Regions from separate parts of the Homo sapiens genome. Here region 2 is linked to region 1. Evidence: fine-mapped expression QTL. Tissue or cell type: stomach. Region 1 holds a variant in brackets; the other region holds the start of a gene. All regions are shown on one strand. Distances are from middle to middle.

Region 1 (8,173 bases):
ACAGAGAGTGTTCAAAGCCAGGGATGGATTGGCTCTCTTGGGCTGGGTGGGGGACATTTGTGCCCTGGAATACTCCATTCTTGGCATTCAAAAGTGAGCCCTGTTGGGAACTCTTCACATGACTGAAAACTTGTATTCTTTTTTTCTAGTTCAAGCAAATATATTCAGACATCTTACACTATCACTCTATTACTACTAAGAAAAACAAAAACCAAGACTGAAGCCGATGTCTAAAAATTCTCATTCCCGCTCTTGCTGACCAAAATATTGTCCCAAGGAATAACTGTGTGGGGTCACTGTGTCACCATCTGGATTGGACATCTTTTTTTTTTTTTTTTAGACAGAGTCTTGCTCTGTCGCCCAGGCTGGAGTGCAGTGGCGCAATCTCGGCTCACTGCAAGCTCCGCCTCCCGGGTTCACACCATTCTCCTGCCTGACCCTCCCGAGTAGCTGGGACTACAGGCGCCTGCCACCATGCCTGGCTAATTTTTTTGTATTTTTAGTAGAGACGGGGTTTCACCGTGTTAGCCAGGATGGTCTCGATCTCCTGACTTCATGATCCGCCCACCTCGGCCTCCCAAAGTGCTGGGATTACAGGCGTGAGCCCCCGTGCCCGGCCTGGATTTGACATCTCTTATCCGCCACTTTGGGTTTTTTGTTTGTTTGTTTGTTTCTGTTTGTTTGTTGAGACAGAGTCTCGTCCTGTCGCCCAAGTTGGAGTGCAGTGGCATGATCTTGGCTCACTGCAAACCTCTGCTTCCCAGGTTCAGGCAATTCTCCTGCCTCAGCCTCCCGAGTAGCTGGGATGACAGCCACGTGCCACCACACCTGGCTACTTTTTGAATTTTTAGTAAAGATAGAGTTTTGTCATGTTGGCCAGGCTAGTCTCGAATTCCTGGCCTCAGGTGATTTGCCCTTCTTGGCCTCCCAAAGGCTGGGATTACAGTCATGAGCCACGGCGCCCGGCCTTATTCACCACTTTGGATCCTCCAGCCTCCTCTATCTGTTATTTTAGCCTCCATGGGGAGGCTACAAAGGAAAAGTCTCTAGTAGGCCAATTCAAAGATTTACCTGTATTTGGAACATTTTATAGAAAAAGAAGACATCTATTGTTAGACTACTAAAAAAAAAATGTTTGGTTAAACAAAGGTCTCCAGTCTCTCCCCATCTCTACTAAAAAAAAATACAAAAAAAATTAGCTGGGCATGGTGGCAGGTGCCTGTAGTCCCAGCTACTGGGGAGGCTGAGGCAGGAGAATGGTGTGAACCCGGGAGGTGGAGCTTGCAGTGAGCCCAGATCGCGCCACTGCACTCCAGCCTGGGCGACAGAATGAGACTCCGTCTCAAAAGAAAAAAAAAGAAATAATACCTACCTTTACTAAGTCCAAAGAGTTTGAATTTTTCTCTTATTTTCTATTTCTTAATTATTATTATTATTATTTTACTTAGAATACACTAATGATCCCCAAACTGCAGTATGACAAAAAAATCCTGCTGTGGACTATTCTGTTTGTGTCCCATAGGTAAAAATAATGCCTGAGACTGCACTTTATAATATCATTTACTTATAAGAATAATGTCATTTGAAATTAACATTATCCTTTAAGTTTGGAGGCTTTATTTTAAATGTTTGATGTTTCTCATTATGTGTCAAAGTCACGTTTTCTATGAAACACATCTGACGTTTTATAAAGATAAATTTTTAAAGAAAGGAAAGTTCATAGCCAATTTATTTTTAGCTGCTGAAAAACAGAAATAGCCCAAATGTCCATCCACAGTGGAATGGCTAGGACAGGTAATAGAACCGTGATATAGTCACACAAAGGGATACTCCTTGCCATTTTACAAAAGAACAAACCACTGATACACACAACTGGGATGACTCTCATAGTTATTATGAGAACAAAAGAAGCTGGACACACTGCACAATGCTATTTTTATGGAGTTAAAGAACAGGCAGGCCAGGCATGGTGGCTCCCGCCTGTAATCCCAGCACTTGGGGAGGCCGAAGCGGGTGGATCACCTGAGGTCGGGAGTTCGAGACCAGCCTGACTAACATGGAGAAACCCCATCTCTACTAAAAATAAAAAATTAGCCGGGCATGGTGGCGCCTGCCTGTAATCCCAGCTACTCGGGAGGCTGAGGCAGGAGAATCCCTTGAACCTGGGAGGCGGAGTTTGTAGTAAGCTGAGATTGCACCATTGCACTCTAGCCTGGGCAACAAGAGCGAAACTCCACCTCAAAAACCAAACCAAACCAAAACAAAACAAAACAAAAACACAAAAAGAACAGGCAAAAACAAATCAACGGTGGGAGAAGGCAAAGTAGTGGTTACCTCTGAAGGGGAAGGCTGTTAGCTATGACGGGTCAGGAAGGAGCCTTCTGTGTGCTGGAAACATTGATTTTTCTTTTTTCAGCTTTATTAAGGTTTACTGAACAAATAAAACTTATATATATTCTGGTGTACAACATTATGCTTTGCAACATGTATATGCAATAAAGTAATTAAATCAAGCTGATTGACACAACCATAAGCTCACTGACTTATTTTTTTATGGAGAGAGCATTTAAGATCTACTCTTAGCAATTTTCTGGAATATAATACACTATTTTTAACTACAGTCACCATGCTATACAATAGATCTGCAGAACTTATTCATCCTGTCTCACTGAAACTTGGACCAGTATCTCCCCATATCCTCGTTCTACAGACCCCGATAACCAACATTCTCCTCTCTGTTTCCATGAGTTCAACTCTTTTAGATTCTACATATAAGTGAGATTATGCAGTATTTGTCTTTCAGTGCCAAGCTTATTTCACTTAGCATAATGTTCTCCAGGCTCATGCATGTCACTGCAAATGACAGGATTACCTTCTTTTTTTAAGGGTGAATAATATTCATTAGATATATGTAACTATATATATGTATGACATTTTCTTTTTTTTTTTTTTCCCGAGATGGAGTTTCGCTCTTGCTGCCCAGGCTGGAGTGTGCAATGGTGTGATCTCTGCTCACCACAACCTCTGCTTCCTGGGTTCAAGTGATTCTTCTGCCTCAGCTTCCCAAGTAGCTGGGATTACAGGCATGCGCCACCATGCCAGGCTGATTTTGTATTTTTAGTAGAGACGGTGTTTCTCCATGTTGTTCAGGCTGGTCTCGAACTCCTGACCTCAGGTGATCCACCCGACATTTTCTTTACCCATTTGTCTGTTGATTGCATACATGGGCTATTGCAAATAATGCTGCAATGAACATGAGAGTGCAAATATCTCTTCCACGTACTGATTTCATTTCCTTTGTATCTATATGTAGAAGAGAAATTACTGGATCATATAGCTGTTCTATTTTTAATTTTTTGAGGAATCTCCATACTGTTTTCCATAATGACTGTACTAATTTGCCAACAGTGTACAAGTGTTTTCTTTTCTCCACATCTTTGCTGACACTTGTT[A/G]TCAAAAGAGTCTTTTTGATTATAGCCATTCTCACAAGTGTGAAGTGATATCTCATTGTGGTTTTGATTTGCATTTCCCTGATAACTAGTGATGCTGAACATTTTTCCTTAAAACTATTGCCTCTATATGTTTTCTTTTGAGAAATGTCTATTCAGGTCCTTTGCCCATTTTAAAATTGAGTTGTTTTCTTACCATTGAGTTGTTTGAGTTTCTTATATATTTTCTATATTAACTCTTTATCAAATGTATGGTTTGCAGATATTTTCTCCCATTCCATAGGTTGTCTTTTCACTGTATTAAATTGTTTCTTTTGTTGTGCAGAAGCTTTTTAGTTTCATAAAATCCCATTTTTTGTTTTTGTTGCCTGTGCTTTTGGTTCACATGCAAAAATTCTTTGCAAAGACCAAGGTTGGGAAGACTTCCCCCTATGTTTTCTTCTAGTAGTTTTACGGTTTCAGATCTTTTGTGGTTCCATGTGAGTTTTAGAATCATTTTTTCTATTTCTGTGAAAAAGTCATTGGAATTTGGATAGGAATTGCATTGAATCTGTAGGTCATTTTGGGTAGTATGAGCATTTTAACATTATTGATTTTTTCCAGTTCATGAACACAGTGTAGCTTTGCGTTTATTTCTATCTTCTTCGATTTATTTTATCAATGTAAAACGTGATATAGTTTTCAATGAACAGATTTTTTTCTTCTTGGTTAAATTTATTTCTAAGTATTTTTATGCCATTGTAAATGAGATTGTTTCCTTAATTTCTTTTTCAGATAGTTTGTTGTTAACGTATAGAAACGCTACTGATTTTCATAGGTTGATTTTGTATTCTGCAACTTTATGGAATTTATCATTTCTAACAGTTTTTTATTGAAGTCATTAGGGTTTTCTATGTATAAAATCATGTCATCTGCAAAGACAATTTAATGTCTTCCTTGGACACACTTACTTTAAATCCTGGTGGTGGTTACATGTAGATAAAAATGTGTAAAAATGTGTACTTTTGTATGTCATATTGCCAAAAAAGGAAACAAAAACAATGTTCTGATTAGATACCCATTTTAAAGGCCACTTTTGAGGAGTGAATTTATGATAAACTCAAGTTTCTTTGATAGCATCTTACATTTTCTAATGCTGTGTACCTTTGCAACATACCTTTTCATATGGTACAGCCATAAAACCTTGATCATTGTTGCTTCCTCTCATTTCAGTGTCACGATAACTCTGGTGGTGTGGGCTGGCATCATTATTTTCATTTTATAAATAAGCAAATTGCAGCTCAAAAAGATTAAGAGACTTATTCAAAGTTATACAGCTGATTCATTACCAAGTCAGAGCCATAACTCAGATCTCCTGAATCCAGTGAAATAATCATTTCATAACAATCAGCACCACCCCTTTACCTAAGAATGGCTCCCAGGAAGAAGTTCATTGTGATTTCCCTTTGGTTGCTCCTGGAATTTAAGTGATGGCTGAAAATTACCTGGTAACAATCAATACATATGCCACATATCGTGCACATACGACGTGCAGTGTTTCCCATTGTCACAGTGGGTTTATTTCTCTCAACAAAATTATGGATAGAAATATCTATCCCCATCTTACATTTGTAATAGCTAAGACTTAGAGTGACTGGATAACTTGCCCAAGGTCACACAACAAGGAAATGGGAGGCCTGGGATGATTTAAACCCAGATTGTCCTGACTTCAAAGTCTGTGTGTTTAAACAGTAATGGTCTCGCTTCTCGAGCAAGTTTTAACAGAAAGCGATTTTCCTTAAGTGCAAGCAACCATGTCCCATCTCCAACATGTTTGTGGAGCCCCAGTCCTTCAGCCTGAGGACTTGCTGCAACATAGTAGCATCTGCCATATTTAGTTCCCAGGAGAGAAAATTCCTCACTTGCACCACAAAGATGTTAATGGGGTTGGGAGGAACACAGAACTTGAGGTGACACTCTTGTCAACATTTAAGTAACCTTAAACCTGTTTATTTATGCAAAATTAGAGAAAAATTATGCTTCTGTATTAGTAGTACCAGTTAGAGTGTTAAATCTAAATGTTACCTCCATAAAAAAAGTTATGCGTTAGAAACCGGATCTACACCTTAGGACCAAGCTTTTCAAAACCGGTCTCTTCACTTAGCAGTTCACATATCATCTCCCTGCCTTCTATGGTACACCAGGCTGAGGTCTCCCCACAGCTCTCTGTGACATGTTGCTGAGACGGAGAAAAGCTATTGGCAGCAGGAGCTGGCCTGGTACTCACAGCTAAGCCCTGATGTTCTGTGGGACATAATCTCATAGAACATCAACACCAGACAACAAGCACCAGCCCCACTCAGGATGGAGGAAGACGAAGACAAGACCTCCCATAATCATTGCAAGGCTCTTGTATCGGTTCGAACCCCAAGAGCACGCCAACAAACAGCACAAGGCGGTGTGGAGCAACACGCTGTTTTAATGAGCGCCTGGGTGCAGACAGGCTGAGGCCTAAAACGGCGTCAGCACCAAATGAGGATGGGGCAGGGGTTTTATAGTCTCCTGTAAACAGGACGTGTCTCAGTCTGATGTAACTGCTACGCAGTACCCGGACGGCCTCTCTCTCGGTCTTCAGGGGGTACGTGTCTTCCAGCCAGCTCTCTTCCTGCTTCTGCTATCCTGCTGACGCACGCTGCTGGCGCAGGTGGTCTTGCGCTTTGGGACTGGCCCTGAGAATGGAGGAGTTATTCACCCACCACCCCCAGCTTCCAGGCCCCGGGGAAAGTCTTTCATTCCTGTCTATTTCGTTACAGAAAAAGGGAAAAGGGACGACTTTTTCAATAACTGCTTCAAGCGTGACATGGGGTGACGTGGGCACCTTGGAAACAAAGAAAAACTGAATTTTGGGGATATTCTTGAGAGACGGGTTGGTATTCGTCGTGTCGTTGTAGCAGGAGCATCGTCTGGATTGTCTGGCGGTTAACTGTAGTTTCAACAAGACTTTTCATAGCTTTTATTATTAGTGGGATAATACAGGGAGAAACAGGAGGAACCCAATGATGAAGATTGCTGTCCCTACCAGCGTTCTAAATCCTCCTAAATTAGAGAACCACTCTCTAGAAGGTTTGTTGGGTCCCATCCCTTCCAGGTTTGGACTGGTCCATGGGCTACTTTTCTGGTGTTTGAAGCGATTTCTAGTACTGCTTTTCTGTTATCGTCTATGTTAAGACAACAATTGGAGATATTAAACTTACCACAGACCCCACCTTCTTCTGCTGATAAGTAGTCTGGTGCTGGCCTGTTTTGATAAATTGCCGGGGGTATTTGGTTTTGTTGTTGCGCAAGCGTTTCCAGGGCTGAAGCAGTTTGGTTAGTGATTATCTCTAGAATCGCCTGTAGTCTAATTATTCTATTTCGAATATATATGGGAGGTGATAACCCCATGAACCATCCTCAGCCCAAGTGGCAGGACCATAATATTCGATGATCCGTTGCAGAAGTCATTCGTCCCGTTGCCATCTTTGGCTTCCTCCTACCTTTAAGGATCTTTTTGTTGTTGTTGTTGTTTACGTTATTGTATACAGGGACTCTGAGGGTGTTGCCCGCTGTTAATGTTTTGGAGGAAGGAGTAGCCTTGGGGGTGAGATTGACCCTGGTACGATGGATCCAGCAGGGGAGTCCTTGGACTCTCACTGCAGTTGGTGTGCTGAGTATCACAGTGTAGGGGCCTGTCCACTTCGGCTGTAGGTTGTTGTGACGGTCGGGTTGGCAGATAAACACGTCTGTGCCTGCAAGACAGTTATGTTGAGAGGACAAAGAGGTGTTGACAGGAAGGGGCATGGCCTCATCTGCTGCTTCATGAATGAAAGACCGTGTCTGGATTAAGAAAGGGAGGTAATTCCTGAGTGGCTCAGTGTCTGGTAAGATGGAGGCCCCAAGACAAAAGTTTGGTCATACATGATTTCGAAGGGACTATAAAAAGAGGGTGACTTTGGTGTTGTGCAGAGTCTCATGAGGGCAAAAGGGAGATTTTTTCCTCCACGCCTGGTGGGTTTCTAGAGCCAGCTTGGTAAGTTGGGCTTTAAGGACAGAGTTAACTTTTTCAACTTTGCCGGAAGATTGAGGCCAGTAGGGTGTGTGGAGAACCCATTTTATACCTAAGGATGTAGAGACACCTTGGGTAATTTGGCTGATGAAGGTGGGCCCGTTGTTGGACTGGATGGATGTTGGGAGTCCGAAACAGGGAATTATATGCATGATGAGAGTTTGTGTGACGACATTTGCACCTTCTGAAGTTGTTGGGAACGCTTCTACCCACCCAGAAAACGTACAAAGATTAGAAGACAGTGGAACTGTGTATCAGGCGGCATGTGAGTGAAGTCTACTTGCCAATCTTGCCCGGGTACCCAGTCCTGGGCTTGGTGGGTAGGAAAAGGCAGTGGCCAGAGGGAGCCCTGGGGTGACACTGAGTGGCAGATAGAGCAGGACTGGGTGATTTCTTGAACGTGGCTGGAAAGGTGAGAACGAGTGAGAATAAGGCGGAGAAATTGTAAGAGAGGTTTGTAACCGACATGGATTGAGTTGTGGAGACTTTGGAGGATAGGGATTGTTTGAGAGTGAGGAAGAACAAAGCGCCCTTCCTTGACATACCATAGTCCTTGCTTTTGAAGGTTTTGGGCTCGGAAGTCCTCCTTTCCTCCTGAGGAATAAAGAGAAGAGAACAAGGACAGGGACAGAAACTGGCC
Region 2 (8,173 bases), 270 kb before region 1:
GTGGGCTGGTAAGCCAACTCTTTGTGGGGTGGAAGGGAGAAAGCACTGATTCATAGCACTTGCCAGTATCCACTGATGTAAATAATCACACCATGGCGTGACTTCAAGCCACTAATGATTTAACAAAAAACTCCTAAATATTTAACAGTTGGCTCCTGCTAATCCCCAGAGACTCGCCCTAGTATGCTACTTGGTTGGGGAGCATGAAGTTCAGGCACTGGTGGACTTTCAGAGCTGCAAGTGGCACACATCATTTGTAGGATCAGTGTCATTTGGTTGAGACTCTGACACTCAGAGGAGCTGGCCCTGGAGTGAGTGCACCCCTGGTTGGCTGGCTTTCAGAAGCATGAGGCTGACACTGATTGGTTAGCTTGCCAAGTTTATTCTGAAATGAGTTGTCATTGATTCACTGCTCAGGCTTGGAACCAGTTTTGAAAGCTACTTGTTATTATGGGCACATAACAATCTGTTTCTCAAGTTTGTAGGAACATTTTTGTTCTCAGATGTTACTCACACTGGATAAAAAATTTTAACTCAGGCCTTTCTTAGAAAAGACTGGACAAGTTGGGTCACTTATTATTCAGCTAGTGACTTCAGTTAGAATAATAGCTTTTGGATGGCCAGTGAAGCTAAGTGCAGAAGAATCCCCCACTAACACTAAAACAGATTCATCTTGATGAGATGTGTTTCCTATCTTTTTCTTCTTTTCCCATTTCTATGGACTTCTATGAATCTGAGCCTAACTAGAGGATTTGTGGGTAGGATTTTCAGTTCACTTTACTGGGACAATCTGAGACTTATTTCTTTGAGATAAACTTCAGCAACTCTTCTTTCTTGGACCCTAACTGTAGACAAACAAGGTATTAACAGGACACCAACCTTGGCTGGTTTGCAAAGGGAGACTGTACCCTACATCTAATAAGCATGGTCACACAATGTTCCCTCACCACCCCCACCCCACCCACACACACATACACATGTATAACAAGCATGGTCACACAATGTTCCCTCACCACCCCCAACACACCCCCACACACACATGTCTAATAAGCATGGACACACAATGTTCCCTCACCACCCCCACCCCACCCATACACACACATGTCTAACAAGCATGGACCAACACAATGTTCCCTCACCACCCCCCACACCGCCCACACACACACATGTCTAATAAGCATGGACACAACATGACCCCTCAGCACTCCCCACCCCACCCCCCCACACACATGTCTAATAAGCATGGACACACAATGTTCCCTCACCACCCCCCACCCCACCCACACACACACATGTCTAATAAGCATGGACACAACATGACCCCTCAGCACTCCCCACCCCACCCCCACACACACATGTCTAATAAGCATGGACACACAATGTTCCCTCACCACCCCCCACCCCACCCACACACACATGTCTAATAAGCATGGTCACACAATGACCCCTCACCACCCCACAACCCACCCACACACACACATGCCGATTCTCTGACCTGTGAACATGCAGTAGGAATTCTTTGTGAATCAGAGCTGCAGGAGGTTGGATGGGTACCCATATTTTCCTTAACTCATGCTAGAATGGCCTACAATACTTATTTTACCATTTAATACCTTGTTAATATTAAAAATGGTTTCAATCTGGTATCTATTTGCAGTCAACAACACCAACTCCATGTGTCTTCAGTAAAGGAGTCCGTTCTCTTCTCCAGTTAGCTCCTGCTCAATCCCTTCTGGACCTAGAGTAATATCCCCACGTAGATCATGTCCAACCACCCTGTGACTGAGAGCAGGGACTTGGGGGGCTGAGAAGCCTGAGTTTAAGCATTGGTTCTCACTGGTCACCTGTGTGACCTTGGCATGCACCACTTATGTAAACAACATAAGAGATGTGGAGTAAATCATTTCATCTTCATGACAATACAATGAGGTAGGCCCTATTAGAATCCCCATACAAGAGATCTGTGGACACCACACTCAGGGCAGACTTTGTCCCAGCTGCTAAGGACGACACTAAGGCTGTCCTGTTCATTCCTCTGTATAAAGATAAGACAAGGATGAGGATGGCAGGGAACAGAGAATGAAGAGGCAAAGCATTTTGCAAAAGTAAGTGATCAGGCAGAGAGCCAGAGAAAGGCCCTCCAGTTCTGCTCTATGTTCCCAGCCTCCAGGCCCAGCCCCAGGACCTGACCCTCAACAGCCTGCCCGAGCTCTCCTGTGTCCTCAAACCTCTTGGGTCTTCAAATCCAGTGGCCTTTCCTTGATGCACACTCTTTCTGGTCTCTCAGAGAATGTTGGTCCCTGCTGGCTATCTCCTGCCTCCTCCATTCTAGGTCATTCTCCCAGGGGAGAGGCAGCCCAGCAAACAGCTGGCTTGGGTCCTATCTCTGCAATCACCTTCCTGAGCTTACCCTATTGGGGCCTCAATTTCCTTATCTGTAATATGGGGATTCTAATAGTGCCTACCTCATTGTACTGTCATGAAGATGAAATGATTTACTACACATAATATGTGGCTGTGATTGCATACATTAAGAGCTATTAATATATAAGGGCTTGTTACTGTTATGATCCCAGAGCCCCCTTTCCCACAGCTCCTCCCTTTCTCTAGTACATTTTTCTTCCACAGTTCCTCTTAACCGCATGTGTCCCTCAAGTTCTATCCTCAGCCTTCTCTCTAGCAATGCCCACTTTGTGGATTCATTATTTCTCCAGGTTCCAAGTATCTTCCCCATACTGGTGACTCTCCAGTCAGTATCTGTGGCCTGGGCCCCTAACATAGACTGCTGTCTCCCTTTTCTGCTCAGGTGTGTCACTGTCGTCTGAAATCAAACATGTCCTCGATGGAACTCAACATCTTCCCCTTTAAGCTGGATCCTCATTCCCTCACCCACTTATGATAGCTTCCAGTCTCCAACTCTCCCTCTCTCCTCCTTTTCCCAATATCCAATTTACTAGCAAACCCTGTTGCTCTTCCATTAACTTTACTCTGATCCACGCCTTCCACTGCATTCCCACCTGCCCCCACCATCCAGGCCATCCTTACCAGCACAAACCATTACCCAGCTTCACAGCAGATGTTCCCTGGATTAAGGGAAGTGCTTCTCCGCTGGGTAGAATTGACGTTCTGAGTGGAAGAGGTTTCAATGTAGGAGAGCAAGAGGCAGCCCTGCTGAGAGGCTAGACTCCTGTACGGTGCAGTCAGCACTACAGGCTGTTAGCACTGAGAGCCAGCTGGACACCCTGCGCCCCGGTCCTGAGATTAGGACACACACTCATGCACACACTCTCTCACAAACACACTCATGCGCACGCACACACACATTCATGCATGCACACACAAACTCATGCATGCTCACACACACTCATGCACACACGTGCACACTCACACGCACACTCACCCACTCGTGCACACACACTCATGCACACACACTCACACATGCACATTAATGAACACTCACATGCACGCGCACACACATCCACTCTCATGCACACACACACACGCACGCGCACACACACATGCACATTCATAAACACACACTCTCACACACATACACTCACACACACTCACATGTCCAGGTGGCCTCTGTTTGGGGATGGGGGCATCATTAGCCCAGCTGAAGATCACAGAGCCTCTTCCAAATCGAACCCATCCCAGACAAAGCTTCTCAAACACAGATGGCTCAAGCTTCCTCCACGCTCTCTCCCTTCCTACCTGCCTCCTTCATCACCTCTTCTTCTCAAGGTGGCCATAACCTTCCCGCCCTCAATTCTCTACTTCCATTCTTACCCTCTCCCTCCACCCTCAATTCTCCACTTCCTCTCTTACCCCTGCCCCAGGCCTCCAGGTGCTTCTGCTCCTTTGGCTCCTTGTTGCCTGACAGGCCTCCCAGCACTTGCTATTTGTACCCTATTCATCCTCCCAGCCTGGTTTGTCCTTTCCCTGACTGCACCGTCAAACTCCCAGGCCTACTCTAAACACCTTAGAATCAGTTCCACCGGGTCTGTCTCTTTGTTACTCTCTCTGATTCTAGTGTATCATCTTGGCAGCTGAACTGGACATTCAGTTTGTTGAGGACAGAGGCCATCCCAGGCTTTCACTTCCAGGGCCTGGCACAGGGAAAGGTAGCAGCCTCCTAGGTGATGCCACTTGGTAGATTTCAAAGTTCCTGATCAAAACCTGGCCTCTTAGTCCCTGCCCACTGCCAGCCTGGGATGAATTCCTGCAGAAAGATTTTAACAACCAGAACAGAATTGTAGCCAGGGAAAACTTCAGCCTCTCAACAGCTTTTTCACTGGGCATCAAAAATAAAAAAGGGTTGGTCCCAGCAGGTGACAAGCTCATCACTGGAGAGAGATGACCTGTCTGTGCCAAGCACTGATTCATTAGCACAATAGAGGTTGATGTTGAAGCTGGCCTGTGTGTGTTTCTTCCTCTCCATAAGCCCTGCCATTGACTCACACTCATCATCAACACAACACGACAGCGAAGCTAAGCAGCATAGCTGGTGTCTTTACCTTCTTCTGCTTGGTGCAGGTCACTGCTGTCTTTTAAGTCTTCATCCACCCAGGGGCGAGCTTCGGCCCTGGTTCTAGGCTCCCCCTTCTTTTTCTCCATGCTTCTGTCGGCATTTTTAAAGATCCACACAACCAAAATGCAGAGAATGGCTACCAAGATGGGAGTCAGGAAATACATGGTCTGGAGTCTGACGTCACAGGCGTGCACACTTCCCACACCGGTTTTTAAACACACAGAGACAGGAGTGGAGAATGCCGGGAGATAGAAGGAATGCAGACACAGGTGTGCCAGGGAAGGAACAAAGTGCAGAACTCTTCAACTCTGTGAGGACTTTGCAAAGGAGCAAAGATCACAGTCACATGTGTGGGGTGTTGTGGCTTTGGTTATACACCAGTCCATTAACTTTTTAAAAGTATGTACTCTGTCGATATATTCTTAGACAACAATTGCCAGAATCTGAGTAAGAACTTGCATGTGCTAGATCTAGCTAGATCACCTGAAGAACTTGTTTTTGTTTTTGTTTTTTTTAAATAGATTTCCACACACCAACTCAGATCTGCTGGAAGAAAATGTTCAGGAAAGAGGTTTGGCACCATGCATTTTAAATGGCATATTTGTGAAAACAGCCCTAGGGTTTTGATTTTTTTTTTATGATACCTGAGCCAATATATGGAGTAAAGAGAATATCATGTTTTGCATCAGAGAAAAACTTTGATCCAGGAAAAGTGACACAAAAAATTAAAGTGACAACTTGATTATGTAATTACTTCAGTAGGGCTTTTTATGTGTTAGTTTGTCTGTCTGTTTTAGAAAGTGCCTTAGTCAGTTATGGCTGAAATAACAAAAATACTATGGACCGGGTGGCTTAAACAATATAAATTTATTTCTCAGCCAGGTATGGTGGCTCATGCCTATAATCCCGGCACTTTGGGAGGCTGAGAGGGGCAGATCACTTGAGGTCAGGAGTTCGAGACCAGCCTGGCCAACATGATGAAACCCCATCTCTACTAAAAATACAAAAATTAGTTGGGCCTGGTGGTACATGCCTGCAAACACAGCTACTCAGGAGGCTGAGGCAGGAAAATAGCTCCACCCAGGAGGTGGAGGTTGCAGTGAGCCGAAATTGTGCCATTGCACTCCAGCCTGGGCGACAAGAGTGAAAGTTCCTCTAAAAAAAAAAAAAGAAAGAAAGAAGAAGAAGAAGAAAAAGAAAAGAAAAGAAAGAAAGAAAGAAAGAAAGAAAGAAAGAAAGAAAGAAAGAAAGAAAGAAATTTATTTATCATTTATTTATCATAGTTCTGGAGGTTGAGAAGTCCATAATTAAGGTGCTGGCAAATCAGCTCCTGGTGAGGGCTCCCCTCCTGGTTTGCCAACAGGTGCCTTCTTGCTGTAACCTCACACAGTGGATGGTGGAAACAGATCATCTCTATCATCTTTTTTCTTATAAGGCCACTAATCTCATTAATGAGGGCTCCACTCTCATCACCTGTTCACCTCCCAAAGGCCCAACCTCCAAATACCATTGTACTGGGGCTTAGGGCTCCAACACATGAATTTTGCCAAGACATATTCAGTCTTTAGCATCAAGGTGCAAACGTATGTATAACATGATGCCATTTGAATAAAACAGAGTGGAAAATATGATACATTTATACAAACTTATATATGTATTTCCTGGAAAAGCATACTCTAAGGAGCGGTTATATCAGGAATTCTCTTTATTAATTTTGCAATTTCTTGTGAGTCTATATTATTTCAAAATAAACAGTGAAAAAAACAGTGGTTACTTGTTTTGGAGGGAGTGTGGAAACTGGATAGATGGGGGACAAGGGTGAGAGAATTTCTACTGAATACTATTCCATAATTTAAGTATTTTGAGCTGTTGTAAATATATTATCTATTTAAAAAATTGAATATGTGTTATTTATTTCAATACTCATTTTGATGGTTTTATTGTATCATATATTGTAATACTCCTTTTTGTGATAGACAGTTGTTTTTTAAGATGTATATCATATTGGTTCTCTAACTCCAGAGAACTCTGTAGAAGATAATAAACAAAGTTTATTATGGAAGCACTGGCCTCCACAGACCATTGAATTTGGTGGTGCTGCCTGCCATGCCGACAGCTTTTGTACAGGAAAGTGCCCTCCCTGTGCCTGCTGAAAGGGTGTCAGAGGGGACATGTCCAGTCCATGTGATCCAACCCCACGCAGGCAGCTGAAAATGGCAGAGCCTGTGTTGGGGCCCAGCTTCTCTTTACATCCCACTAAAAACACAGAATAAAGAAACCACTCCATAGCAAGAGAAGAGCAAGACAAATGTGCAGAGAGAAGCAAGGCCTGCAAGGCAGCAATGCCTCACAGCTCAGGGGAAGGACAAGGTGAGGGCCATGGGTGGCAACTGCCTCTGCTCCTAGGAGGTCCCAGGCCTGCCTCGGTTTCAGCCCATGTGTCTCCTTACCTTCGAAGAATCAGAAAGATCCTCGGTGCCTGTAACTACAAAAGCACAATTCATATCAGTGTCAGGAACAGGATTAAGCCCAGGAAAAATGGGGTGGTGGGAATTGGTTTTAGTGCACTAGTGGGTGAAGTCTGGGAGGCACCCCCATCTCAGAAGGGAATGCTAACAGCTGTGGCATGCAGCAGCTGGCTGGCTAATTGAGTATTGCCTGAGTCTCTTGGGTTTCAGACCATGTGCCCAGCAGAATGAGTCTGTAGGGGATTCTGAAGCCACTGAGAGCCCCGGAGGAGCTGAAACATAAGGACAACCATGCCAGAAGGCAGCTTTCCATCATGTTTGGTGACTTGCAATGGGAAAGAAAAGATTCTTGCTCTGAATTGCTTGGTTCAAGATAGAGAAGAAAAGCAAAATGACCATGCATTCCTTCATTCATTCATTCACTCATTCATTCAAAATATATTTTTTGGGATCCATGCAAAAGGCATTGCATTTGGGGCCAGAAATAGAACGGAGGGCAGTAGGGGCTGCACATGCTCATGGAGGCAGGAGCCACAGAGAGACAAGCGGATCGAATCTCATATACTAATGCCACATTCCAACTTCCCTAAGAGCTGCTAGGGAGCTGACTGGAGTGTGACTGGGCTGAGTTGGTGAAATCAGAGGCTTCCCAGAGGAAGGAATGGCTGAGTTGAGGTCGGAGCTGTGAGTGGGAATCAGTCATGGGGCAGGAGAGAGCCTTCCAGGCAGAGGTCATGGTGTGCAGCAGGATAATTAAGGCATCAGAGATGGGTTGAGGAGGAATTATTTAATTATTTAGGTGCACTGACCCAGTCAGATTAACATCCAAAAGACTGAGCCCCCAACAAAGAGTCAAGCTACCTTTTAAGCATTTTGTGGGGTGGGGGGAGATTTGTGCAGGGGGAAGTGTATTACAGAAACGAGAAACAAAGACAGTTATTCAATTAAGACATGCATTACATTATTTCTTACTTTTCAAGGAACAGCATGTTTTGTGACTTGAGATTATCTGTCTAGTGACCTTGCAGCTGCACAGCTAGAGAAACAGGGTCTTCACAATGCCTGGGAAAGGGGGAGATAAGGCTCACTAGCCTCAGAAAAACAGGCAGTCAATTTTTAAAGGATTTCAGCTCTTTCTCTTCCTCAGGGGGAATTGGTTTTTCTTACATACAAT

What was found. PIP is the estimated chance that this variant, and not a neighbour inherited with it, causes the effect.
Region 2: IYD starts here. The variant in region 1 is fine-mapped to the expression of IYD in stomach (GTEx, PIP 0.99).

The regions. Positions count from the first base shown.
Region 1 is chr6:150,098,731-150,106,903 of GRCh38, reverse strand. No RefSeq gene overlaps it. Among named protein-coding and RNA genes, the nearest start is that of ULBP3, 34 kb to the right of the region's middle. The variant A/G (reference allele first, on the strand shown) is at 3,453.
Region 2 is chr6:150,365,554-150,373,726 of GRCh38, reverse strand. It overlaps IYD (iodotyrosine deiodinase), which reads right to left and starts at 4,715. Exons shown (of 5, transcript NM_203395.3): 1 at 4,518-4,715. The coding sequence starts at 4,695.